Linked DNA regions of Homo sapiens. Each later gene encodes a partner of the first gene's protein in a complex. Each region holds a gene or a part of one and is shown in the gene's direction. Other genes may lie near its edges.

What was found.
Region 2: NUP214 (region 1) and NUP160 share a complex: the UniProt entries of both Homo sapiens proteins name them as parts of the nuclear pore complex.
Region 3: NUP214 (region 1) and NUP107 share a complex: the UniProt entries of both Homo sapiens proteins name them as parts of the nuclear pore complex.
Region 4: NUP214 (region 1) and NUP205 share a complex: the UniProt entries of both Homo sapiens proteins name them as parts of the nuclear pore complex.

What each region holds. Positions count from the first base shown.
Region 1 is NC_000009.12:131,121,594-131,128,588, forward strand, and holds the start of NUP214 (nuclear pore complex protein Nup214), read left to right. Parts: upstream 1-3,992; 5' UTR 3,993-4,111; coding exon 4,112-4,156; intron 4,157-5,930; coding exon 5,931-6,126; intron 6,127-6,738; coding exon 6,739-6,890; intron 6,891-6,995. UniProt on the Homo sapiens protein: Part of the nuclear pore complex. Has a critical role in nucleocytoplasmic transport.
Region 2 is NC_000011.10:47,838,319-47,845,353, reverse strand, and holds part of NUP160 (nuclear pore complex protein Nup160), read left to right. Parts: intron 1-3,666; exon of another isoform or gene 3,667-4,110; intron 4,111-4,765; coding exon 4,766-4,976; coding exon of another isoform or gene 4,977-5,126; exon of another isoform or gene 5,127-5,288; coding exon 5,289-5,511; exon of another isoform or gene 5,512-5,853; intron 5,854-7,035. UniProt on the Homo sapiens protein: Functions as a component of the nuclear pore complex (NPC). Involved in poly(A)+ RNA transport.
Region 3 is NC_000012.12:68,731,976-68,739,010, forward strand, and holds part of NUP107 (nuclear pore complex protein Nup107), read left to right. Parts: intron 1-661; coding exon 662-764; intron 765-1,476; coding exon 1,477-1,637; intron 1,638-2,732; coding exon 2,733-2,858; intron 2,859-3,255; coding exon 3,256-3,369; intron 3,370-7,035. UniProt on the Homo sapiens protein: Plays a role in the nuclear pore complex (NPC) assembly and/or maintenance. Required for the assembly of peripheral proteins into the NPC. May anchor NUP62 to the NPC. Involved in nephrogenesis.
Region 4 is NC_000007.14:135,644,917-135,649,288, forward strand, and holds the end of NUP205 (nuclear pore complex protein Nup205), read left to right. Parts: coding exon 1-102; intron 103-551; coding exon 552-680; intron 681-1,241; coding exon 1,242-1,315; intron 1,316-3,487; coding exon 3,488-3,640; 3' UTR 3,641-3,837; downstream 3,838-4,372. UniProt on the Homo sapiens protein: Plays a role in the nuclear pore complex (NPC) assembly and/or maintenance. May anchor NUP62 and other nucleoporins, but not NUP153 and TPR, to the NPC.

The sequences.
Region 1 (6,995 bases):
CTGGACTGGGGCCCAGATGTTCAGGGACCCTGCCTACACCTCATTTCCAGTGTGGGCTGCCTTAGTTAGTTATGAGAACAGGGAAGGGCTGGGAAGAGACAGCCTCCAAGGTCAACACTTGGAGAGGGTTTCACTTGCTCTGAAGACCCTGGTCCAGGATTCGCCCTCTCCCATGCCTTCAAGTCAGCATCAGGCTTAGGGCAAAGACCAGGCCTCTGAAGCTGCCTCTTGTAATTCATGCAGGAAGATGTCAAAGTCAGCCCCATCTTGGCTGATCAGGGTGTTCAGCCTTAACCCCACCTGTGTTCTGAAGTCTCTTACCCTACCTGCTCAGGACTGAGACAGTTATTCACTGAACATATTTATTAAGCACTTGCTGTAGGCCAACAGTTAAGAATCCAATAATGAAATGGACAGATTCATGGAACTTAGAGTCCAATAGGAAAGTGAGACCCAGACAATGACAATGAGATAAATGTTAGGAAGGGGGAGGTATGGGGTGACTTCCCTGCAGTCCTGGGGGCCTAGATGGGCCCAAGACTGGGTGAGAGTCTTGGCAGAGCCTTTGCAACACCTTAAGTGGACAGGACTGGGAGGTCTTGGTGGTTGGAGCCAACGTGGGTTCCCTGCGGCTCCTTAGTCACCTCTGATAGCAGATTGAGGGAGGAAAACAGGTAAGGCATGAGGAAATGGCCAGGTTGGGTTAACCCACTGGTTTCAACCAGTTCAGGAATGAGGTTATTTGGCCATGACTGGCTGATCTTGAGCTCAAGGATCTGCTTCAAATGCACACAGGCCTAGTTGAAGTTTAAACCCCAGCAAAACATTCCTCCCTGTAAATGGAAAATCCTACTTCTACCCCCACCCTGCCCTGTTTTTTGTTTTTTTTTTCCCCAAGATCATTAGATGTCCTCACCCCTCCTCACTGCCTCTCCTCTCTGGGACAGGCTGGGACCTTTGAGGAAGATAAAGCCTTCCTTCACTACCCATCATATTCAGTGTCCCTGTTCCTCACTCAGAGAGGAAGGCAGAACCAGTCAGGCTTATTTCAGTAAGTTCCACAGTTCTACAAGACTGCAGGAATTCTCCTTAAGGGAGGAGAGCAAGCAGGTGTGGCCCCAGCTTCTGGAAATGGCAGAAGAGAGGGTTTTCTCATTGAATGGGGGTGGGGGCTCGTGTGTCCTGGGAAACCCCATCAGTCCCTTCATTTCTTGAGACTCAACTCCTGGGAGGAGAGGGTCTCAAGAGTTGTCCCTGGAAGGAGGGCGGGGGCAGTCTGCATCTATTTCAGGTTGTGGCTCTTGGTTCTAGGACTCTTACTTCTCTGGCTAAGGGCTCAGCTTCTTGGGACTTCAACCATCTTCTTTCTGAAAGACCAAATCTAATGTAACCAGTAACGTGAGGACTGCCAAGTATGGCTTTGTCCCTATGACTCAGAGGAGGGTTTGTCGGGCAAATTCAGGTGGATGAAGTATGTGTGTGCGTGTGCATGGGAGTGTGCGTGGACTGGGATATCATCTCTACAGCCTGCAAATAAACCAGACAAACTTACCAACGTCTTGATTGGTGTATTTTGGGGCTGGTTCTGGGCTCAGCAAATTGCGAACTAGCTAATATAGTAAGAGATTAAATGAGCATGTCCTGTGCCTTTTGTCTGAGACAGCTGAAATTCACTTATCCTAACCACCTCCCTGCAAGAGACAGGTTCTATTATGTCATCCTTGTTTCACAACTGAAAAGTAGGCTTGAATAAGCAATGTGCTGCAAGCCAAACAGTAAATGGCACAATCCGACCCCCCTGGAGCCAACCCATGAGGTCCAAGTTAAGAACCTCTGTCGGCCGGGCGCGGTGGCTCACGCCTGTAATCCCAGCACTTTGGGAGGCTGAGGTGGGCGGATCACGAGGTCAGGAGATGGAGACCATCCTGGCTAACACGGTGAAACCCCGTCTCTACTAAAAATACAAAAAATTAGCCGGGCGTGGTGGCGGCCGCCTGTAGTCCCAGCTACTTGGGAAGCTGAGGCAGGAGAATGCTGTGAACCCGGGAGGCAGAGCTTGCAGTGAGCCGAGATCGCGCCACTGCACTCCAGCATGAGTGACAGAGTGAGACTCCGTCTCAAAAAAAAAAAAGAACCTCTGTCCTAGAGCATTTATAATTCACTACAGAAATGTATTCTATGAAGGACTTTAATACCATCAGTCAGCCTTATCCAGACGATCTCAATTCTAATCCTGTCACCACCACTTTCTGACTGAGGGCTATTGGAGAATTTTCTCAACTTCTCTGTGCCTCCCTTACCTCATCAATTATTATTATGTATGTGTATGTGTGTGTGTGTATATATATATATATGTGTGTGTGTGTATATATATATGTGTGTGTGTGTGTGTATATATATATATATATATATATTTTTTTTTTTTTTTTTTTTTTTTTCTGAGACAGAGTCTCACTCTGTCACCCAGGCTGGAGTGCAGTGGCACAATCTTAGCTCACTGCAACCTCCACCTTTTGTGTTCATGCGATTCTCCTGCCTCAGCCTCCTGTATAGCTGGGAACACAGGCGTCCGCCACCACACCCGGCTAATTGTTGTATTTTTAGCAGAGACGGGGTTTCACCATGTTGGCCAGGCTGGTCTCGAGCTCCTGACCTCAGGTGTTCCACCCACCTCGGCCTCCCAAAGTACTGTGGTTACAGGCGTGAGCCACTGCTCCCAGCCTATTTTTATTTACTTTTTTTTTTTTTTTTTTTTTGAGACGGAGTCTCGCTCTTTCGCCCAGGCCAGACTGCAGTGGCGCTGTCTCTGCTCACTGCAACCTCCGCCTCCCGGGTTCACGCCATTCTCCTGCCTCAGCCTCCCGAGTAGCTGGGACTACAGGTGCCCGCCACCGCGCCCGGCTAATTTTTTGTATTTTTAGTAGAGTCGGGGTTTCACCGTGTTAGCCAGGATGGTCTCCATCTCCTGACCTCGTGATCCGCCCGCCTCGGCCTCGCAAAGTGCTGGGATTACAGGCGTGAGCCACCGCGCCCGGCCTTTTATTTACTTTTTGAGACAGGGCCTGGCTCTGTCACCCAGGCTGGAGTGCAATGGTGCAATCACAGCTCCCTGTAGCCTCAACCTCCTGGGCTCAGGCAATTCTCCCACCTCAGCCTCCCGAGTAGCTGAGACTACATACGCATGCCATCACTGCTGGCTAATTTTTGTGGTTTTGTTTTGTTTTTTATAGAGACGGGGTCTCGCCATGTTGCCGAGGCTGGTCTCAAACTCCTGGTCTCAAGCAATCCTCCTGTCTCCGCCTCCCAAGTGCTGGGATTATAGGCATGAGCCACCCGCGTCTCATCAATTAAATAAATAACCCCTAGGACGACTAAGATGTCTTCAAGATTACATGAGATCCCACATCTGAAGGTTTTTGCAAAGGACTTGGCACAAACTCGTGCGACTAGACATGGATATGGCTCTTGCTCTGGAAAGGATCACCTTGATAGGAGCAAACAAAGCTGGTCTTCGGTGCCCTTTAATCTCCCCTCCCAGCCTTCCACCTTCCACACTTTAAGAGTCGTCCCTGCCGACCCCCCGACCCCGTTTTTCTGAACCTCCCTTCCTCCCCTTGCATAGTCCAAAGCCTCTCTCTAAAGCAGCCCCCCGAAAACATCTGTCAAGTTCCAAACTTATCTGAATCGGAAGCTACCAATAGCCAACCTACATCTAAGGGGAACTGTAAGATTTCAGAAGAACAAGAAGCATAGGTCGCTTAGGCGTGGGCCACCCAAGAAGAGAGACTTAACACTAGGTAAGCCCGCGCTGGCTGCGAAGGCGGGAGCGGCACCAGGACCATCCAGGGCGCAGGCGCAGGGACCTCACGGCCACGCCACTACTCAGCCCGAGCTGGCCAATGGGGAGCGGCGGCCGGAAGAACGCGCGGCTTCGCTAGGTTCCGCGGCTTCCTCTGACCAAGCTTGACGTCACCAAAGCGCGCCGGAAATGCGAGGTCAACTGCGCGCCGCTGGCGCTGAGGGGAGGAAGTTTGCTGTCGAGCGGCCTGGGTTCCGTGGGCAAGGCCGTGGGAGGCAGCGTTGGCTGCTTCGACACACTGAGGGCGGCGCGATGGGAGACGAGATGGATGCCATGATTCCCGAGCGGGAGATGAAGGTCAGAGACTAACCGGGGCCTCCCTCCCTTCTTTAGTCCTGGCGTTGCCTTGGAGCCCAGCTGAAAGGCGAAGCGCGGTGCTGGCTGTCCCGCCTCCTGCTTGAACAGTTTACCGCGTTCACAGCTCTCACCAGCGCGTCTGCCGCGCCGCTGGCGTGATAGCCCCACCGAATGCAGTTTCCCAGTCCCATCCTGGTCTCGTGCACGGCTGTTGAGTTACCCTAGCTACTTCCTGGGGCGGTCACAATAGTGGCAATAACTGCTGTTTATTGAGTGTTGACTGTGTGCCAGGCACTGTGGTAGTCATCGCGGCAGCCCTACGAAGTAGTCGTTAACGTAGAGGAGTAAGTTGAGGCTCGGAAAGTAATTTCCCTAAAGTCACATTTGACGCGGGGCTGAAAGCCAGCATCATTTAAGACCTTTGCTCTCCCAGTACTTCTGTAAGGTGATACGGGCTTGCCTAACGTAGAGTCAGGGAAGGTCATCCATCCTGCAGAACCTTTAGTTGATTGGACTAGGAAGACTATTTTGACCTCGGTATATCAGCCTAAAGTCAGGAACCTAAAGGGAGGGCCAAGTGGTCCCAGTGATAGCAACGTGGGAGTCCCCCAGGGATAACTTCAGGATGGTGTGTTTAATAGTTCTTATATGGGTTCTGACAGAATGAGGGTACAACAGACGGGCTACATCTGTTTTAAATAGTGAAAAGAAGTAAGTTGCAGGAAGATTTTAGGCATCTGTGTGAACAATAAATCACTAAAATGCATTTAGGGCATAGTAATACCATGTTTAGAATAGTGATTTTTTTTTTTTTTTGAGACAGAGTCTTGCTCTGTCACCCAAGCTGGAGTGCAGTGGCATGATCTCGGCTCCCTGCAACCTCCACCTCCCCGGCTCAAGCGATTCTCCTGCTTCAACCTCCCTAGTAGCTGGTATTACAGGCGCCTGCCACCACGCCCCACTAATTTTTTATATCATTTGGTAGAGACTGGGTTTCACGATGTTGGCCAGGCTGGTCTCGAACTCCTGACCTAACGTGATCCGCCCTCCTCTGGCTCCCAAAGTGCTGGGATTATAGGCGTGAGCTACCGTGCTGTCCTAGAATAGTGATTATTTTTTGAGAATCACCACCTGTGGTGAGCCACCTAATGGGGTTGTGTCATATTCCTCAGATATGCTGGGGTAGAAGAAAAAAAGGTTTTATTAATAGAACCACAGACTTAGAAGATGGTAATCTCGCACTCCCTTTGGCAGCACATATAAAATTGGGATCATGCAGAGAAGACTATTATGGCCCCTTTACATGGATGACAGACAAATTCATGAAGTGTTCCATATCAGAAAAAAATGAGGGCCGAGTGTGGTGGCTCATGCCTGTGAGCTTGCACTTTGGGAGGCTGAGGTGGATGGATCACTTGAGGTCCGGAGTTCGAGACTAGCCTGGCCAACATAATGAAACCCTGTGTCTACTAAAAATACAAAAATTAGATGGCCATGGTGGCGGGTGCCTGTAATCCCAGCTACTTGGGAGTCTGAAGCAGGAGAATCGCTTGAACCTGGGAGGCAGAGGTTGCAGTGAGCCAAGATCGCTGCACTGCACTCCAGCCTGGACGACAGAGCGAGACTCCATCTCAAAAAAGAAAAAAAGACAATTGAGACAGACCTTGGTCTCAGTAATACATATTTTTGTTGTACTGAAATTGGGTCTACTGAATATAACATGTTTTAATTTCTTTCTTTATTGAATTGATCTCGTTTTGATTCTTCACAACAGGATTTTCAGTTTAGAGCGCTAAAGAAGGTGAGAATCTTTGACTCCCCTGAGGAATTGCCCAAGGAACGCTCGAGTCTGCTTGCTGTGTCCAACAAATATGGTCTGGTCTTCGCTGGTGGAGCCAGTGGCTTGCAGATTTTTCCTACTAAAAATCTTCTTATTCAAAATAAACCCGGAGATGATCCCAACAAAATAGGTAAGTTCCCTGGTTTATGTTGCAAAGTAGAGAGAGGAGTATGGTGGCATGCTCTTGTGTTTCCTTCCCAAGAAGTCATTCTAATACTAAAATGAACACTGCTGTCAGTTTGAAGGTTGACTCCCAAGAAGATTAATGGAAGCCTTTCTAGGTTTTCTCCTTGGTCCTTTGTATTTCTCCTTACATGAGTTGTTCCTCTCAGCTCAACAGGGAAGAACTTAACCATTATGCCATGCTTTTATTTTTGCTCAGTTGAACTTGGGCTCTGGCTCTCTGGGTGAAGGGTTTTATTGGCATGGGTTTTCAGTTGGCACAACAGTATGATCCAAACTATTGGCAAGGTGTACTATTTAGAGCATTGTTGCAAAAATATTTTCAACAAGGGCAGCAGCCACAGTTAGTTTCCCCAGATTGTATGAGGAAGAATTCCAGGGATACTTAATCCATCATTATATATCTTTAAGAAAGTTAAGATTTATCTGTATAACTAGGTATTGGGGTGTATGTGTGTTTATGTAGATGCAAAAATTTTTTCACATCGAACTGGATAGAGGTTGTGGCTTTATGCTTAGAACATACCGTTTTCTGCTTTGTATTTTTTTGTTTTCATAGTTGATAAAGTCCAAGGCTTGCTAGTTCCTATGAAATTCCCAATCCATCACCTGGCCTTGAGCTGTGATAACCTCACACTCTCTGCGTGCATGATGTCCAGTGAATATGGTTCCATTATTGCTTTTTTTGATGTTCGCACATTCTCAAATGAGGTAAGCTACTGTTATACTGTGATGTCAACATGAGAACCCTAAGCAGATTTCCTTGTATTGAATTACAACTTGGAAGCTTCATAGGTTAACCCTTGAAGTTTCTCT
Region 2 (7,035 bases), on another chromosome or scaffold:
AGCCTGACCAACATGGTGAAACCGTGTCTCTACTAAAAATACAAAATTAGCTGGGCATGATGGCACATGCCTATAATCCCAGCTACTTGGGAGGCTGAGGCAGGAGAATAGCTTGAACCCAGGAGGTGGAGGGTGCAGTGAGCTGAGATCACACCATTGCACTCCAGCCTGGGCAACAAGAGCAAAACTGCATCTCAAAAAAAAATGTAAATAAAAGAATGGCTACTCCATAGACAGAGTAGCTCCGAGGGCTGCTGGTTGCCCATTTTTATGGTTATTTCTTGATGATATGCTAAACAGGGGTGGATTATTCATGCCCCCACTTTTTAGACTCCTGATGTAACTTCCTGATGTTGCCATGGCATTTGTAAACTGTCATGGCGTTGATGGGAGTGTAGCAGTGAGGACAACTGGAGGTCACCCTTGTCGCCATTTTGGTTTTGGTGGGTTTTGGCTTGCTCCTTTATTGCAACCTGTTTTATCAGCAAGGTCTTTATGACCTGTATTTTGTGCTGACCTCCTATCTCATCCTGTGACTTAGAATGCCTTAACTGTCTGGGAATGCATCCCAGTAGGTTTCAGTCTTGTTTTACCCAACTCCTATTCAAGATGGAGTTGTTCTGGTTCACATGCCTCTGACAGTTTGTCAGTTGATTAATGGAATAGGAAAAAGGGAACAGCATAAGAGGGAAGAGGAATACCTGTGGGAGTTAATGTTTTATGTAGGGTGGTTGGGCAAGAGCCAGGGGTAAGCTGACATTTGAGCAGAAGAAAGGATATCTGGGGAATGAGTATTTCAGGTGGAGCCTTCCAAGAAAAAGGAATAAAAAGTGCAAAGAACCCTGAAACAGGAGCCTGTTGTGTTCAAAGAGTGGAAAGGAGCCAGGAGTCTGCAGCTGAGTGAACAAAGGGTAGAATAATAAGAAAGAGATAGTTGAGGGCCAGATCAGGGCTTTGTTGGTTATTTTAAGCTTTGGCTTTTGCTCTGAGTAAGATGAGAAGAAGCTGTGGAAGGTTAAAGTGGAGGAATGACGTGATCTAAGATCTGGGCTTCTAAAGGATTGCTTTGACTGCTGTCTTGAGAATAGAGCGTGGTGGGGGAAAGGGTAGGTGCAGGGAGACCAGTTAGGAGGCTGGTGCCACAATTCACACATGATGGTGGCTTAGATCAGGGTGGTAGTGACAGAGGCAGTGAGAAATGTTGTGATTGTGGATATGTTTTCAAGGTGAATTTGTTAGAATTACTGTTGCATTGGATGGGGAGTATACAGAAAGAAAAGAGTCACAGGTGAGCCCTAGATTTTTGGCTTGAGCAATTGGAAGTTAGGGAGATGTCATTAATTGCGATGGAAAAACGTATAGGTGAAGCAGGTACTTTTGTTTTCTTCAGGTTCAGTGAGTCCAGGAGTTCTGTTTTGGACAGGTGTAATCTGAGATGCCTGATAGATATCCAAGTGAGTGTTGAGACAGTAGTCAGGAGTTGAGTGGAGAAGTTGGGCTAAAGATACAGATTGTGAAATTGTTGGCATTAGATCGTGCTTAAAGCTGTTCTACTGAATGAGATCACCTAGAAAGTGAGAATAAATTAGGATTTTTCACCTTCTGCACTATTATTGTCAGCTAAGTCTTCATTGTGGAAGGCTGTCCTGTATGCTATAGGGTGTTAAGCAGCATTCCTGGCTTCTACCCTCTGCATAGCAATAGCACATCTATACCGCCACTTCTACCCTAGTTACAATAACCAACAATATCTCTAGATATTGCTTAATATCCTGGTGAATGAGGAAGAATCGCCCCCAGTTGAGAGCCACTTGAGTAGAGCAGTCTGGGACTGAACCCTGGGGCACACCAACATTTAGAAAAATGACGAACCAACAAAGGAGCCCAAGAAGGAGTAACTGAAGTGAGAGTTGAACAAAGAACGTGGCATCCCAGAAGCTAAGGGAAATGTTTCAAGGAGGAGGAGAGTGAAAACCTGTCAGTGTTGCATTTAAGCCAGGCAAGATGAGAAACGAAAATTGGCCTTTGGATCATGGAGGTCATTGATGACCTGGTCAGGAATTGCTGCAGTAGTCGTACAAAAGCCTCAGTGGAGTGGGTTCAAGAGGGAAAGGGAGGAGAGGAATTGTGAGTATAGAATAGCCCTTCCAAGGTGTATTGCTATAAGGGAAGCAGAGAAATCACATGGTAACCAGAGAGCAAGGGAGGAACAGAGAAAATATAATAATATATCTATGTGCAGTTGGGAATGACCTAGTAGATGCAGTTGAGAGCAATCACTAGAGGAAAGGAATTTGGGGAACTGAGAAGGTAGAGTGTTAGGATAATTGGATATTGTTTATTCATTTGTTTGTTTGTTTTTTTTTAGAGTCAGAGTTTCACTCTGTCACCCAGGCTGGAGTAAAATAGCACAGTCATGGCCTACTGCAGCCCGAACTCCTAGGCTCAATCGATCCTCCCATCTCAGCCTCCCAAGTGGCTGAGATTACAGGCGGGCATCACCATGCCTGGCTAATTTTTTTATTTTGTAGAGATAGGGTTTTGCTGTGTTGCCCAGGCTGATCTCGTACTCCTGGGCTGAAGAAATCCTCCTGTCTTGGCCTCCCAAAATGCTGGGATCATAGGCATGAGCTATTGTACCTGGCCCTGATACTGAAATCATTAAGAATTATGGTGAGAGTAGTGTGGGAGAGAGTGACAGTGGGCCAGGAGCTAAAATCAACTGCAGTGAGCATGGGTAGCAGGTGGTATCTGATTCCATGAGCTTCAGAGCTGAGTGATTCGGGTAGCAGAGGAGGAACAGTGGCCTAGAATGCCAGTGGGGAACAAGGACATCTGTATGTTTTCCTTGAGGCCCCACCCCAAAGGGCATGGTAGAGAAAACTCTGGGGTCACTGTCCTCACGGGAGATCCAGGATCCAACTTTAACCGTAAGGCAGGAAAGCGAAGGAATTATTCAGAGATGAGGTTGAGGATCCAGAAAATTGTGCTGATGCCGTGAGTTACCAGAAGCAAAGTAGCTCTGGGAAATCATCAGCGCTGAAAAGGTACTTACATCCTTGGGAGTAGATAAGATGTGCCTTGGGAGAAAGTGTACAGTGAGAGAAGATGGTCCAGGATCAAGGTTTGAGGAAATCTAGCATATAGGGGTCAGGTCAAGGAGAAGGGGAAGAAATGGACAGGAATGTGGGAGGAAAACTGGGAGAGGGTAGTATCATAGGATTCATGAGAAGAGACTGTTTAAAAAGGAAGGCAAGGTCACATATGTGGAATGCTGCTAAGAGATCAAGTAAGAGGGCCAGGCATGGTGGCTAACACCTGTAATCATGTGGAATGCTGCTAAGAGTCAAGTAAGAGGGCCAGGTGTGGTGGCTCACACCTGTAATCCCAGCACTTTGGGAGGCCGAGGCAGGTAGCACTTTGGGAGGCTTGAGGCCAGGAGTTCAAGATCAGCCTGGCCAACATGGTGAAACCCCGTCTCTACTAAAAAATACAAAAATTAGCCAGGTGTGGTGGTGCACACCTGTAGTCCCAGCTGCTGAGGAGGTTGAGGTGGGAGGATTGCCTGAGCCCAGGAGTTCGAGGCTGTAGTGAGCTATGATTGCACCACTGCACCCCAGCCTGACAGAGTGAGACCCTGTCTCAAAAAAAAAACAAACAAACAAACAAAAATTATCAGATGGTACATGCTCCTTAGAGCCCTCAATCTCTCGAACTAGAGCACGTTCCAGGATCACATGGCCTTCCTTGTAACACTGGCTGTCTTCGGTGGCAAACTCGTAGATCCATCCCAGTTTGCTGCTGCAGTTTTTCAGCTCACATGTTGGACCATGTGGTGGCCAGTGAGCATGACCCAATCTAGAGCTTCATTGTACTGCAGGTTCACTACCTTGTTAAAAAGAAATGCTCTGCCAGTGGCGCCTGTGAACCAAGTGGAGATGAATTCTGAGCGGTTGGTCAGGATTGTATCACAGTTTGCATAAGAAAATGGACAGGTACCACGAATATGATCAAGGAAAATTCTGCCCATTTTTATGGCTGAAGTTCTAAAAACCCTGTGCAGCAGTGAGATCTGTGGCTGCCAGTGGCTCCTTGCTCCTCAGCTGGGATTAATAAACAAGCTCCTTTTGGGGAGGGTGGGGGAAAAAAGAAAAAAATAAATAAACAAGCTCCTTTTGAGGAGTAATAATGAAAGTTAGAATAGCTTAGTATAGAAACTAACCCTGATATGTTCAATTTGCGAAGGTATTTTTATATTAAAATATTTATTTTTGTAATATTTTTGCACATACATGTAAGCGCATGTATAAAATTGCTATTCTGTGTGTGTGTGTGTATATGTGTGCGCATGCATGCTATTGCAGGTTAAGAAGTAATAGAAACAGGAAATAACCGCAATTATTAAGGTCAGTTTTGTTTGATGCTGTAGTATATATGGAGGCCACATTCCACTACAAGCAATGGCCGGGGTATGGTGTTAATTTTTATTATAGTAGAGTTAATTGCATAAAATATTGTCCTAAATAAATGGCCTATCAAGTTTGGAAATGTCTCTATGTAACAGAATCACAGTGAAATTTGGATTTTGTTATGCTGTTTTTTATAAATGTACATAATGTGATTTGGCATGCAAAAGTGGTCCAAATCTGTTTATCCAAAATTTTCAAATTTGGTGAGTTCACTTGGACACTGTTCTCATATATTTCAGTAGAACAGTCAGTGAGAAAAGCATAAACTTTTCAAACAAATGTCTCTTTTTCAACAGGAAGACCTCTGGAGATACATTGGAGCTGATGGAGGAGTCACTGGACATAAATCTGTTGAATAATGCCATTCGCCTAAAATTCCAAAATTGCAGTGTTTTACCTGGAGGGGTTTATGTCTCTGAGACTCAGAATCGTGTGATAATCTTGATGTTAACCAATCAAACAGTGCACAGGTTACTTTTACCACACCCCTCCCGGATGTATAGGAGTGTAAGTTGGCTAAGTGCAATATCTTTTATTTCCCAAATTACTCTGGGTGTCACAAATGTAGTGCTGGAGCGATGTCTTTTGGAATTGAAGGAAATTTGGATTCTCGTTATCCCTCACCAAGCATACTTTGATAGCTACCGCTTAAAATGATCAGGCATACATTTTAAGTTGAGAATTAGTTTTCATTAAGAAGAATAGCTTTCTTAAACTTGACAGTTTTTTACTTTAAAAACTTTTTTAGCAATAGAGAGGAACTGAGCAAAATTCTGGTTATTTTGATTTAATAGATTTTTCTTTTTAATTACTCAACAGGAGTTGGTAGTTGACAGTCAGATGCAGTCAATATTCACTGACATTGGAAAAGTTGATTTCACAGATCCTTGCAACTATCAGTTAATTCCAGCAGTACCTGGAATATCTCCTAATTCCACCGCCTCTACAGCCTGGCTCAGCAGTGATGGGGAGGCCCTGTTTGCCTTACCATGTGCTTCTGGGGGAATCTTTGTTCTTAAGCTACCTCCTTATGACATACCTGGTAAGAATGGGAACTGAGCATGGATTTAACTTTAAACAAGGAATGTTAACATTGAAACAGTTCAACCTCGTCATCCAATGCAGGGATTGCATCTCTACTGCCCCGGAACTGGTCATTCATTATTGCTTGCCTAATGAGTCCCTAATGCTTTACTTTTATACAGTGGATAAGGAACTATAAAGCATATTGGAGCACGGAAAAACAAATAGACAAGTATAAGACAGCCTATTCTAAATCTTGTAGTAGAGATGGGTTGCCTAATTGTCTGCCCTGAGATGGAGGCATTATAACATTATAATTAAATTAATTGAAACAAAGACATTAAATACCCTGCACCAAGTTGCCACTGTGTCTTGCCTGGATTATTGTATTAGCTTTCTATATATCTCCCCAGATCTGTCTTAACCCTCTTCAGACACTTCTCAGGTGGACTGATATATTTAAAACCCAAGGGCCAGGCGCTGTGGCTCACGTCTATAATCCCAGCACTGTGGGAGGCCAAGGCAGGTGGGTCACCTGAGGTTGGGAGTTGGAGATCAACCTGACCAACATGGAGAAACCCCGTCTCTACTAAAAATACAAAATTAGCTGGGCATGGTGGCCCATGCCTGTAATCCCAGCTACTCGGGAGGCTGAGGCAAGAGAATCGCTTGAACCCAAGAGGTGGAGGTTGCGATAAGCCAAGATCGTGCCATTGCACTCCAGCCTGGGCAACAAGAGCGAAACTCCATCTCAAAAAGAAAAACCCAAGTTGGGTCATGTCACTGCACTGTGTAAAGCCGTCCTTTATGTAGTGCAGTGACATGACACAACTTTTCTTTTATTCTTTTTTTTTTTTTGAGATGGGATTTCTCTCTGTCGCCCAGGCTGGAGTACAGTGGCATGATCTCAGCTCACTGCAATCTCCACCTCCTGGGTTCAAGCGATTCTCCTGCATCAGTCTCCTGAGCAGCTGGGATTACAGGCATTTGCCACCATACCCAGCTAATTTTTGTATTTTTAGTAGAGACAGGGTTTCACCATGTTAGCCAGGCTGGTCTCGAACTCCTGACCTTGTGATCTGCCCACCTCAGCCTCCCAAAGTGTTGGGATTACAGGCTTGAGCCACCGCACCTGGCCTTTCTTTCTTTCTTTTGAGACAGAGTCTCACTGTCACCCAGGCTGGAATGCAGTGGTGCCATCTTGGCTCACTGCAACCTCCGCCCCCCCCAGGTTCAAGTGATTCTCATGTCTCAGCCTCCCAAGTAGCTGGAATTACAGGTGTCCACCACCACACCTGGCTAATTTTTGAATTTTTAGTAGAGATGGGGTTTTGCCACATTGACTAGGCTGGTCTCGAACTCCTGACCTCAAGTGATCCGCCTGCCTCAGCTTCCCAAAGTGCTGGGATTACAGGTGTGAGCCACGGCACCTGGCCAACATGACCCAAGGTGGGATTCAAATATATCATGTTATGCTGAATAAACCCAGAGTCCTTACACTGGCCTAGAGTGACCCACTGCTGTCTCCAACTTCATCTGTTCA
Region 3 (7,035 bases), on another chromosome or scaffold:
TAATCACTAACTTATGTAGCTTGCTTACTCATATTTTCAGAAAGGAATAGAAAGTTATATCTAAGAAAACTATTTTAGAGTAACATTTAAAGGAATCACGTGGTTAAGTTGGTAAGGCATACAATATATAATTCCAGATTAATATTTTCTATAATTTATTTTTATTTTTATTTTCTTGAGACAACAAGGTCTAGCTCTGTTACCAAGGCTGGAGTGCAGTGGCGCTATCTCTGCTTACTGCAACCTTCGCCTTCTAGGCTCAAGCCACCCTCCCTCAGTCTCCCGAGTAGCTGGGATTACAGGCATGTGCCACCATGCCTGGCTAATTTTTTGTATTCTTTGTAGAGAAGGGGTTTTGCCATGTTGTCCAGGCTGGTCTCGAACTCATGAGCTCAAGAGATCCGCTCGCCTGGGCTTCCCAAAGTGCTGGGATTACGGGTGTGAGCCAGCATGCCCAGCAGTATTTTCTATAATTTAATAGAGAGCTGTTAAATATGAAAATACACTAAGGAAAGTTAGATGCTTTCATAATTTTGTATAACTTGAGAGAAAATGATGTTTACTGGAAGTACAGGTGTAAGTTAATTCTACTAATTTGTAGAATATCTTTAAAAAAAAAACTCTGATATTCCTTTTTCTTTTTTTCCCCTTTAATAAATAGGAGGATCGTTTAAAAATTGATGTAATTGACTGGTTGGTATTTGACCCAGCGCAGAGGGCAGAAGCACTGAAACAAGGCAATGCAATTATGAGAAAATTCTTGGGTATAGTATATTTTTATGCAGCTTCAAACTCCTGGGCTCCATTCTTCTTCCTACCTCAGCCTCCCAAGTAGCTGGGACTACAGGCACCCACCACCACACCCACCTAATTTTTAAAAAATTTTTTCTAGAGATGGGGTCTCACTATGTTGCCTAGGCGGGTCTCGAACTCCTGGCCTGAAGCAATCCTCCCACCTCAGCCTCCTGAAGTGCTGGGATTATAGGCGTGAACCACCACACCCAGATTTTTTATTCTTTTTTAAAACGTTTTTGTTCAAATTCGTGTATTTTTGAATTTGGGGTGGGGGGTTGCTTTTTGTTTTTGATCCTTCCATAGGGAGGAGAAAACCAGCCACTCTTTATCTATCAAACCTGGTATTATGAAACAAAATATATTTTAATGGTGAATTTTCATTGTCCTAATCAATTTTGCAAATAATCTCAAGGCTATCCGACTTTGAAAAATGAATTGCTTTAAGACATAAAAGTATGTAAAAGTAACTGCATTTGATGTATCCTTTTGTGATAGTATCACATTGAGATACGAAAAAGCCAGTCTATCAGGTAGAAAGATCACCAAGACCTTTAACAGAGTGCCTTGGGCCCTGAAATAGTTACAGGTCACTGTAAAATTGGTAAACCAGTGATTTGACTCCTTTAGAAACCATTACAGAGAAGTCCGTAGGCATTCAAAATTGTGTATCTTTTTTCACAGCATCAAAAAAGCACGAAGCTGCAAAAGAAGTATTTGTGAAAATTCCTCAGGATTCTATAGCAGAAATCTATAATCAGTGCGAGGAACAAGGAATGGAAAGTCCACTTCCTGCTGAAGATGATAATGCTATCCGAGAACATTTGTGCATCAGAGCTTATTTGGTGAGACTGTAAAGAAAGCCACAGATGTGCCTACTTCATGATGATTTTTCGGATTCACTCTCAGAGTTTGAACTTTTTTCTAGAAGTAGTGTTGGTTCATCTTACCTCTCTTGTGACTATAGTGCTGACTCATCCACAAGGGGACTGACTTCATGACCTTATCTTCATTAGCATGATTCTCTAATCAATGCTAACCAACCAAGATCATCTCACATGGTAGATAGTGTCTATGATGTCTGGAAGTTATGTTTTCTTAAGATTTTGTGATGCATGTCTCAGCTTTAAATTTCTGCTTTTTTCAATAACTGAGAAAAAGCAAGATGCTCTAGGTTTGTTATGACTAAAATAGCAGCATACTCATTCAAAATTCATTCAAGGCTAGATGCGGTGACTCACGCCTATAATCCCAACACTTCGGGATGCCAAGGCAGAAGCATTGCTTGAGCCTGGGAGTTCAAGACTGGCCTGAGCAACACAGTGAGACCCCTGCATCTCTACAAAAAAATAAAACAAAATTAGCCAGGCATGGTAGCATGTACTTGTAGTCCCAGCTTCTTCAGAGGCTGAGGTGGGAGGATCGCATGAGCCCAGGGAGTTGAGGCTGCAGTGAGCAGAGATCATGCCTTGTCTTTATTAGATCATGTACTCCAGTCTGGGTGACAGAGCAAGGTCCTGTCTCAAAAACAAAAAAAAAATTTTATTCAATAAATAATTATGTAATTACAGTGGGTTAGGTAGTAGGGCCAAATCTGTGGATAGCACCCTATCCTTGCCCTCTAAAAACTAATAGGCTAGTTAAGAAGACAAGTACACATGCATATGTTACAGAGCGATGAATGTCAAGATACATATACGATCAGGGTGCTCAGATTGGAGAATATGCCAGAAAACACAATATATATACCTTGTTTGTCACTTGACAAAACATTTATTCATGATATGAATTTTTGGAGGGAAAAAAATATATATTGAACAGTTTTATTTCTTGATGCTGCAAAATTATTTCTAAGAATCAAATGTTAAAAATGTTGGTGAAACGATAAAAGTGAAAACTTTTGTTATTTTATATTTTGGTTTTTTTATTTCACATTTTAGGAAGCCCATGAAACCTTTAATGAGTGGTTTAAGCATATGAATTCAGTTCCACAAAAACCTGCTTTGATACCTCAACCAACTTTTACTGAGAAAGTGGCTCATGAACACAAAGAAAAGAAATATGAAGTAAGTTAAATATGGATCTAGGATGTGCCTACTGCATCTTATAAATGTGTGTTGTATATTTAAAGAGATCGTTTCTTCAGCAACTATCTTTCGATCATAACAGGTAATCTCCCTGTTAATGTCCTGCTTTGGAAGATGCAATCTGTTTAGTTACTTTTCTGTAGGTAATTAACCAAACATGAAAAATGCCTTCAGGTGACATGAGCGTTCATTTACAAAGTTAACATTTTAGCGTTTTACTTAACTGCAGTCTGTTGATACTTATTTTTGTACTTGGCAGACTGAAACATCAACTCTTTAGAATGATGTTCTATATGTATGTTCCTGTCTGTATTTTCCAAATACATTATTTATTGGGTTTTATCCATTATATGTCTGCCTTGTGTTTGTTTTGCAGATGGATTTTGGTATTTGGAAAGGGCATTTGGATGCCCTAACTGCTGATGTGAAGGAGAAAATGTATAACGTCTTGTTGTTTGTTGATGGAGGGTGGATGGTGGATGTTAGAGAGGTAAGCTGTGTGCATTGTTTATAGCCAAAAACCAAAACACTCACCATGTTCTTTTTTAAAAATATTCTGTCTCTAAATGGGAGCATCTACAGATTTTACATAATTGTAGATATAGCTAAATCCCATGTTTTAAGCTAAACTGAAAATACTACCTAGGGAATGGGAATATTTGATTCTTGGATAAACTATTAGTTCACATTTACTATGTTCACAGAGGATACAAAAATCTAATTTTTAAAAAATTCTGGACCTAAAAATTTAATTATACATGTATGTCACTCCATTTACAGATATAAAGATAACTCGAGTAGTATCAGTAAGGCATAGCTAAGGTAGGGGCTCTCACCTCTGGGCTGTCCATTTTAATGACCTGGCAGACTTTTTAAAAACACTACAGGGTTCCACTCCCAGAGATTATGGTGTAATTGGTCTGAGGTAGGGCTGGGGTTTATTTTTGTTTTTTTAATCACTTGCAGTGCTTTAATATAATATATAGCCTGTGTTGAGAACCAGCTACAGAAGTATCAAGTGCCATAAGAAAGGCACAGGTTAAGTATTTTCTGAGTCCAGGAAAAGAAAAGATTGTTTTCACCTGAAAGGGAACTGGAACGTATGCTTGAAATGTATAGCATTTGACTGAATCTTGAACATACTGGTAGAATTTGGATGAGCTGAGATGGGAGAAAGGAAGGATACTGAGATAATAGTCATATAAGGGAAAGACATTGCAGCCTGACCCTGGTGCATGACAGAAACAGTGAGTAGCTTAGTTTATCCTCTGTAGACCTGAGGAGCTGTCTGAGAGCTGGAAATACTGGCTTCTTGGATATTTGATGTGTTATTTTGAACAAAGAAAACAGTAAGTGTTCTTGGTATCTTTCCTTTTGCCATTCTTCATACCCTCATCTATTTAGTACTTTTTCTTTAATTTTAGCTATTGCATTTTTTTTTTAGCCTGTCTTCTCTGACCAGAAGGAGGAAAAAGAATACAGGCAGGACAGCGAACTAAATTTGAGCCCCTATTTGCCACTATTACTGATGGAGTAATTATCTTAAATGTCTCCACTTTATTTTTTCTTTTTTTGTTTTAGAGACAAGGTCTTGCTCTATCACCCAGGCTGGAGGACAGTGGCTTCATCATAGCTCACTGCAGCCTCAAACTTCTGGGCTCAAGCAGTCCTTCTGCCTCAGCCTCCCCAGTAGCTAGGACAACAAGCACACACCACCATGCCTGGCTTTTTTGTTTGTTTGTTTTTGACACAGGATCTTGCTGTGTTGCCCAAGCTGGTCTTGAACTTCTAGCCTCAAGCTGTCCTCCCACCTTGGCCTCCTGAAGTGCTGCGATTACAGGCATGAGTCAATGTGTCGCCACCTTTTTTTTTTTTTTTTTTTTTTGAGAAAGAGTTTTGCTCTTGTCGCCCAGGCTGGAGTGCAATGGCACAATCTTGGCTCGCCTCCCAGATCCTCTTGCCTCAGCCTCCCAAGTAGCTGGGATTACAGGCATCCACCACCACACCCAGCTAATTTTTGTATTTTTAGTAGAGATGGGATCTCACCATGTTGGCCAGGCTGGTCTCGAACTCCTGACCTCAGGTGACCCACCTGCCTTGGCCTCCCAAAGTGCCTGAGATTACAGGCGTGAGCCACTGCGCCCAGCCAAGTCTCCACTTTTTATCCTAACGTTCGTAATAGAACTCCTTTGACTCGTTTTAAACCTTCCACAGGTTCCTCTGGCAAAACCTTTCTCATCTGATTCATGCTGATTCTCTTGAAGATAAAATTTTAATGTTGTAAAATGCTAATTAAGTGTCACTTAAATTTTGAAAAGACTTCAATGCTTTATTTATACATACATCTTTGCTATTCTAATTATTAATTAAGTAGATTAGGTAGTGAAAGCCACAAAATAGTCTTGGGATCTCATAAAATTAGAGTTGAGGCCAAGCGTGGTGGCTCACGCCTGTACTCCTAGCACTTTGAGAGGCTGAGGTGGGTGGATCACCTGAGGTCAGGAGCTTGAGACCAGCCTGGACAACATGGGGAAACCCCGTTTCTACTAAAAATACAAAAAAATTAGCCTGGTGTGGTGGTGCATGCCTGTAGTCCCAGCTACTAGTGAGGCAGGAGAATGGCCTGAACCCAGGAGGCAGAGGTTGCAGTGAGCCGAGATCGTGCCACTGCACTTCAGCCTAGGTGACAGAGTGAGACCCTGTCTCAAAAAAAAAAAAAAAAAAAAAATGGAGTTGAGATGGAAGGCAATGAATGATACACCATTTTGTTTCATCAGGGATTTTAAAATCAATATTCAGTCTCAATTATTTCTTTAAAACTTCAGTCTCAATTATTTCTTTAAAACTAATCCAGAAAAGAGATTTCTTGAACAGTTAAATGATTAATAACATTTTAATCACCTTTGTTGAGCCTAATACTCTTACATAGTCAATGACGTAGGGCATTGTTCAAGGCCCCTGCTAACACGTGTCACTTGTATGTGAATTAGAAAATTGTAATTCTATCTGGGAACGGTGGCTCATCCCTATAATCCCAGCACTTTTGGGAGGCCGAGGAGGGCAGATCACGTGAGGCCAGGAATTCGAGACCAGCCTGGCCAATATGGTGAAACTCCGTCTCTACTAAAAATACAAAAAATTGGCCGGGCACGGTGGCTCACGCCTGAATCCCAGCACTTTGGGAGGCCAAGGCTGGTGGATCAGAAGATCAGGAGATCAAGATCATCCTGGCCAATATGGTGAAACCCTGTCTCTACTAAAAATACAGAAAACTAGCCAGGCATGGTGGCACGTGCCTGTAGTCCCAGCTACTTGGGAGGCTGAGGCAGAAGAATCACTTGAACCTGGGAGGCGGAGGTTGCAGTGAGCCGAGATTGCGCCACTGCACTCCAGCCTGGCAACAGAGCGAGACTCTGTCTCAAAAATAAAAATAAAAATACAAAAAATTAGCCGGGTGTGGTGGCTCGCGCCTGTAATCCCAGCTACTAGGGAGGTGGAGGCAGGAGAATCGATTGAACCCAGGGAGGCGGAGGTTTCAGTGAGCCAAGATTGCGCCACTGCACTCCAGCCTGGGCAACAAAGGGAGACTCCGTCTCAAAAAAAAAAAAAAAAAATTGGAATTCCCTTCCCTTACATAGATAGGTTCCATGGCAAGTGCACACAATATGTAAGACAGAACACAGGCTAGATTTCAGCCCCACTTACTTGCTTGGCCAGCCACCCTTGTACAAGGCACGGCTGTACACAATAGCCCTAGCATTATGTGCTGTTTTCGTATAGCTACCCCTCAAGTTTTTAAATAACTGGAATAGTCCCCTTAGTGTTGGGGCTGGTGGCACAGAGGAATGGCAGAGAGAATGGAGCAGGCAGGTCATCTTTACCTACCTTTCACTACCTCTACCTCTAGCACATTCTAGTCCAAGCCTCTACTGTCTTCCGTGGCTTCTCACTGTTCTTTATACAATCGTTCCTTATACAGATGGACTAGTGACCCTTTCAGAATAAAATACATGCGACTGTCTTACCCAGAACTTTCTGATGCCTTCTTATTGCACTTGGAATAAAATCTTTCTTTTCTTGATGTACAAGAGTATACATACTTTTGTTTTGTTCTTTTTTTTTTAAACTAACCCCCTAATCTTGTGTCCTACTGCTC
Region 4 (4,372 bases), on another chromosome or scaffold:
CTGGTGTTGATAAAATCTCCACTGCTCAGAAATATGTTCTAGCAAGACGGCGCTTGGTGAAGGTGATCAACAATCGAGCTAAACTGCTTTCCCTTTGTTCTTGTATCCTTTATGAAATCATGCACTTGAATGATGACCTTGAAATATAGGAACTGTTCACTTATTCTCATATTATTTGGGCACCAAAACCAGGTGGAAGGAGATAAACTTAATTTTTTCCCAGTAAATGCCTAATGTATTTCCAAATCATAGTTTTTGTTCTTATCTTTTAGAGTAGCTGGTAATACTGATAAAATACATGGGCACTTTCTGTTAGGGAAGAAGGTAGGGACATGAGACTGCTGGCACAGGACCCCAAGGTCCCCACCTCTTTCCTCAGCACACCTTGCTGCTTCCTCTTGAGGAGCCTTCAGTGAGACCCTGTCTGTTAGACTGAGGCTGTGGGTACCTCATTAAGTGAGTGCAGTCTGTCCTTTTTTCTTCTCCTCCGAAACTGGTGTGTAAAACATATTTGATGAGATTATGTTCCTTTAATCTGAGCTCTGGTATAGTTATCATAGAGACCTGCCTATTTATTCTTTGGCGCCATCTGGAGTACTACTTGTTACATTGCATGCCCACGGATTCTCAAGATTCCTTATTTGCCTCGAGAACCTTGTTTAAAAGCAGAAGACTGCAAGGTAAACTTTCTGCTAAAAATTAATGAACCATAAATACCTATTTGTGCCTTGAAAAGCTAGTACCAGTTTTTTTTTATTTTTGTTTCCAGATTACTTAGAGTGAATTGGGTGAATCAAGAGCTGTTTAGTCACTAGACGTAGCTATTTCTTGCATTTTACTTTCTGTTCACGGGACATTGTGCTGAGCATAAGAATATTCTAGAGCCTGCTCATCAGCTGTTCCTTAGCTTCTTGCTGCAGTTAGGGGGCTGATCCAGCTCTAGAAGAATGGAGGAGGTCTGCTATTATGCTGATTCTTATTGCTGGAGTGGGCCTCTGTGACTGATGGCCATATATTGGATCCCTTAGGTGGAAGGAAATAGAGAAAAGCTGAGAACCCTGGTCTGGACCAGTGAAATGCTTTCTAGGGGCTTCCATTTGCTAAAAGTTGAAAATTGAGTTCCCAATCTTGAGCCGTGTTTTTCATGGTGCTATTGTTATTATTCATTGTCATCAGGTTCCTCCACTGTGTGGTAGATAGGTACTTGCACAGCCGGTATGACTCTGTTTTTTTATCTCTAGATTCCTTCGCCTCAGAAACCAATCTAGATTTTAGAAGTGGGCTGGCTATAGTGAGCCAACATGATTTAGACCAGGTAAGGTTCTATTCTCATATTCTTTTATTTTTCTTCATTAAAGTAAAAGGGCTGGGTGTGATGGTACACATCTGTAATCCCAGCATTTTGGGAGGCCGAGACGGGAGGATTGCTTGAGCCCAGGAGTTTGAGAGCAGTCTGGGCAACATAGTGAGACCCCGTCTCTTAAAAAAAAAAATTGGCATACTGTGGTGGCATGCACCTGTAGTCACAGCTACCTGGGAGGCTGAGGTGGGAGAATCACCTGAGCCTGGGAGACTGAGGCTGCAGTGAGCTGTGATTGCACCACTGCACTCCAGCCTGGGCAACAGAGCAAGACCTTGTCTCCAATAAATGAATGAAAGAGTGAAGCAAGACCTTGTCTCCAATAAATAAATAAATAAATGAATGAATGTAAGTAAGTAAGTAAAAAGGAAAGCCTGGTATGTTAATAAGATTATGATTTTCAGGGTTGCTTACAGACACCTGGTTTGAACTCTAGCTTGACCATTTTAACAGCTATATGACTTTGAACAACTTACTTAACTTCCGAGCCTCAATTGCTTCATCTAAGAAATAGGAGGATTCAACCTCAGAGGGTTTTGTCAGAATTAAGTGAGGTTTCATGTATGTGAGGCTGCTAGTGTTGTACCTAGAACATGGTAAGCATTCCGTGATTGGTAGGCATTATGATCTGGAAACTCCTGATGTCTTTTGATTAGCTTTGTAGAACTTTTTAGGTACAAAGTATCACTCAGCACTTATTTTTCAGGAAATAATTTAATGGTGAGATTGAGAGCAGCCAATACAAATCCCGCCGTCATAGACCATAGTACACAACACTGTGCTCTTACTAACCTGTTGATCAGTAGTGTTAGAATGAATGAAGAGTATGCCAAAAACAATTACAATGAAAACCTCATATTAAACTAATAGCAAAGTTATGTTTCTAACAAAGCAGGTATCAGGGTGTGTGATGTTAGGGAAAATGAATTACAGCTAGATCCTCTGCTAGCCATCTGAATGTCCTTAGCCATGATTTGATAAAGCCTCTGCTCCTCCCAAATCCCTCTTTTTGCTATTTTTCTTAAAACAAGGTTGGGAATGAAAGGTGCAGTTACAGCAGCCTCCAAAGCACAGCTTGCTGGATATCATGAATACCACGCTCCCATCCCAATCCAGACTACATTCGCCCCTTAGTGACTTTATAAAAGGAATTCGTTTTGTGGCTAGGCTTGTTTAGGAGAACTAGTGTTAATTGAGGCCATGTGCAAAATTAGCCAAAGAAGATTATTCAGAAGTTTGTTTGTTTGTTTGTTTTGTCTGAGAGACAAGGTCTCACTCCATTACCCAGGCTGGCATGCAGTGGTGTGACCACAGTTCACTGCAGCCTCAACCCCCTGGGCTCAAGTGATTCTCCCGCCTCAGCATCCTGAGTAGCTAGGACAACAAAAATAAATATATTTTGAAGTAATAACTGTTACTATTTCATTTAGACTGCTTTGTGAAAAAGCTAGAAAAAAATGCAGGATTAATAAATAATCTCACACTCTGTGTTGTGATTTTAATGCAAAACTGAAAACAGGTAGATTGATCTAATATTGTACTTAATTTTAGTCTTTTAGTATAACATCAAAAAGATCCATCTGAAACTACATATGCATTCTAGAATATATATGAATTCTAAAGCATATAACAGGTGTATCCCCACATTAATATTTTTTGAAAACAAAAGCATGCAAGTGGGTTTTTAAAAATTGCAAAATGAAGTAAAAAGTAAAAGCTTCTTTCCCACCTACCCTCCTGTCCTCCCTCCCTCCCTTCCTTCCCTGCATTCTCCTTCCCTCCCTCCCCCGCCAGTCTTACTGACTTCTTGTATGGCCCTTCAGGAAATGTTTTTGTGTGTATGTTAGTATATCAGCATCAGCATCAACATTCATTGCTATTTAAAGCAGGTTTTTAAATTTATACAAGAAAAGAAAGCAGGAAAAACATGAGAATTAAACCAAAAAATTCTAAGGTAGAAAATGTGAATGTTTAGTTAATTTAGTAACACATTACAAAAATTCAAAAGTATTTACATTGAAAGAACCACATTACAAAAATTCTAAAGTGTTTTAAATTGGAAGACTTAGAATAAAAGAAATATTTGAGACAACAATTTTAACAAAATGTCTTTTGTGTCACCGCTAGCTTCAGGCTGATGCAATCAACGCTTTTGGAGAATCACTACAAAAGAAACTTCTGGACATTGAAGGATTATATTCAAAAGTTCGATCTCGATATAGTTTCATACAGGCTCTTGTCAGACGTATCCGTGGCCTCTTGAGGATATCAAGGAACTGAGAGCCCGTGCTTATGCTCTTCTATGAGAGAGATGAATTGGGGAGAATTGTCTCCATTTTATAGATTAGTTTCTTTCTAAATTATGACCAAAAATATTTTGCTATTTCTTTCTTTGTATATGGACATCTTTTCTGTAAACTTCTTCCCCTAGTTCCATCCTCACTAGTAAAAAATAAATACTTTTTAAAAAAACAAAACAAATGTATGGTTAATCTTTTGATCTTTTATCTTTTGATCAGCATTATCAGGAATCTAACAAATAAACCTTCAACAGTGGTGATTTTCCCATAGAGATATTATTCTGAATGCCAGATTAAAGGCATAGTCTGAAAATTCTAATTTTTTCACCCTTTGTAGCTACATTACACTATTAACAATATTCAGGGTTACTAAAATATAGCCATGCTCTTATAGAATAGTGTACTCAATACTGTGAAAATGTCTGAAAAAGTCAAGCTTTTTCCTAAAATTATTTAGGTTTTCCTTTTTTTTGTTTTTTTCTTTTCTGCACGTAAGTTGACAATACAATTGTCCCTTGGTATCTGGTGATTACTGGTTCTAGGGCTCCCACGGATACCAAAACCTATGTTTTGGCATGCATGTTCCTTATATAAAATGGCATTGTGTTTGCATATAATATAGATACATCTTCTTGTATACTTTAAATCATTTCTAGATTACTTACAATACCTAATATAATATGAATTCTATATAAATAGTGGTTAATACTAC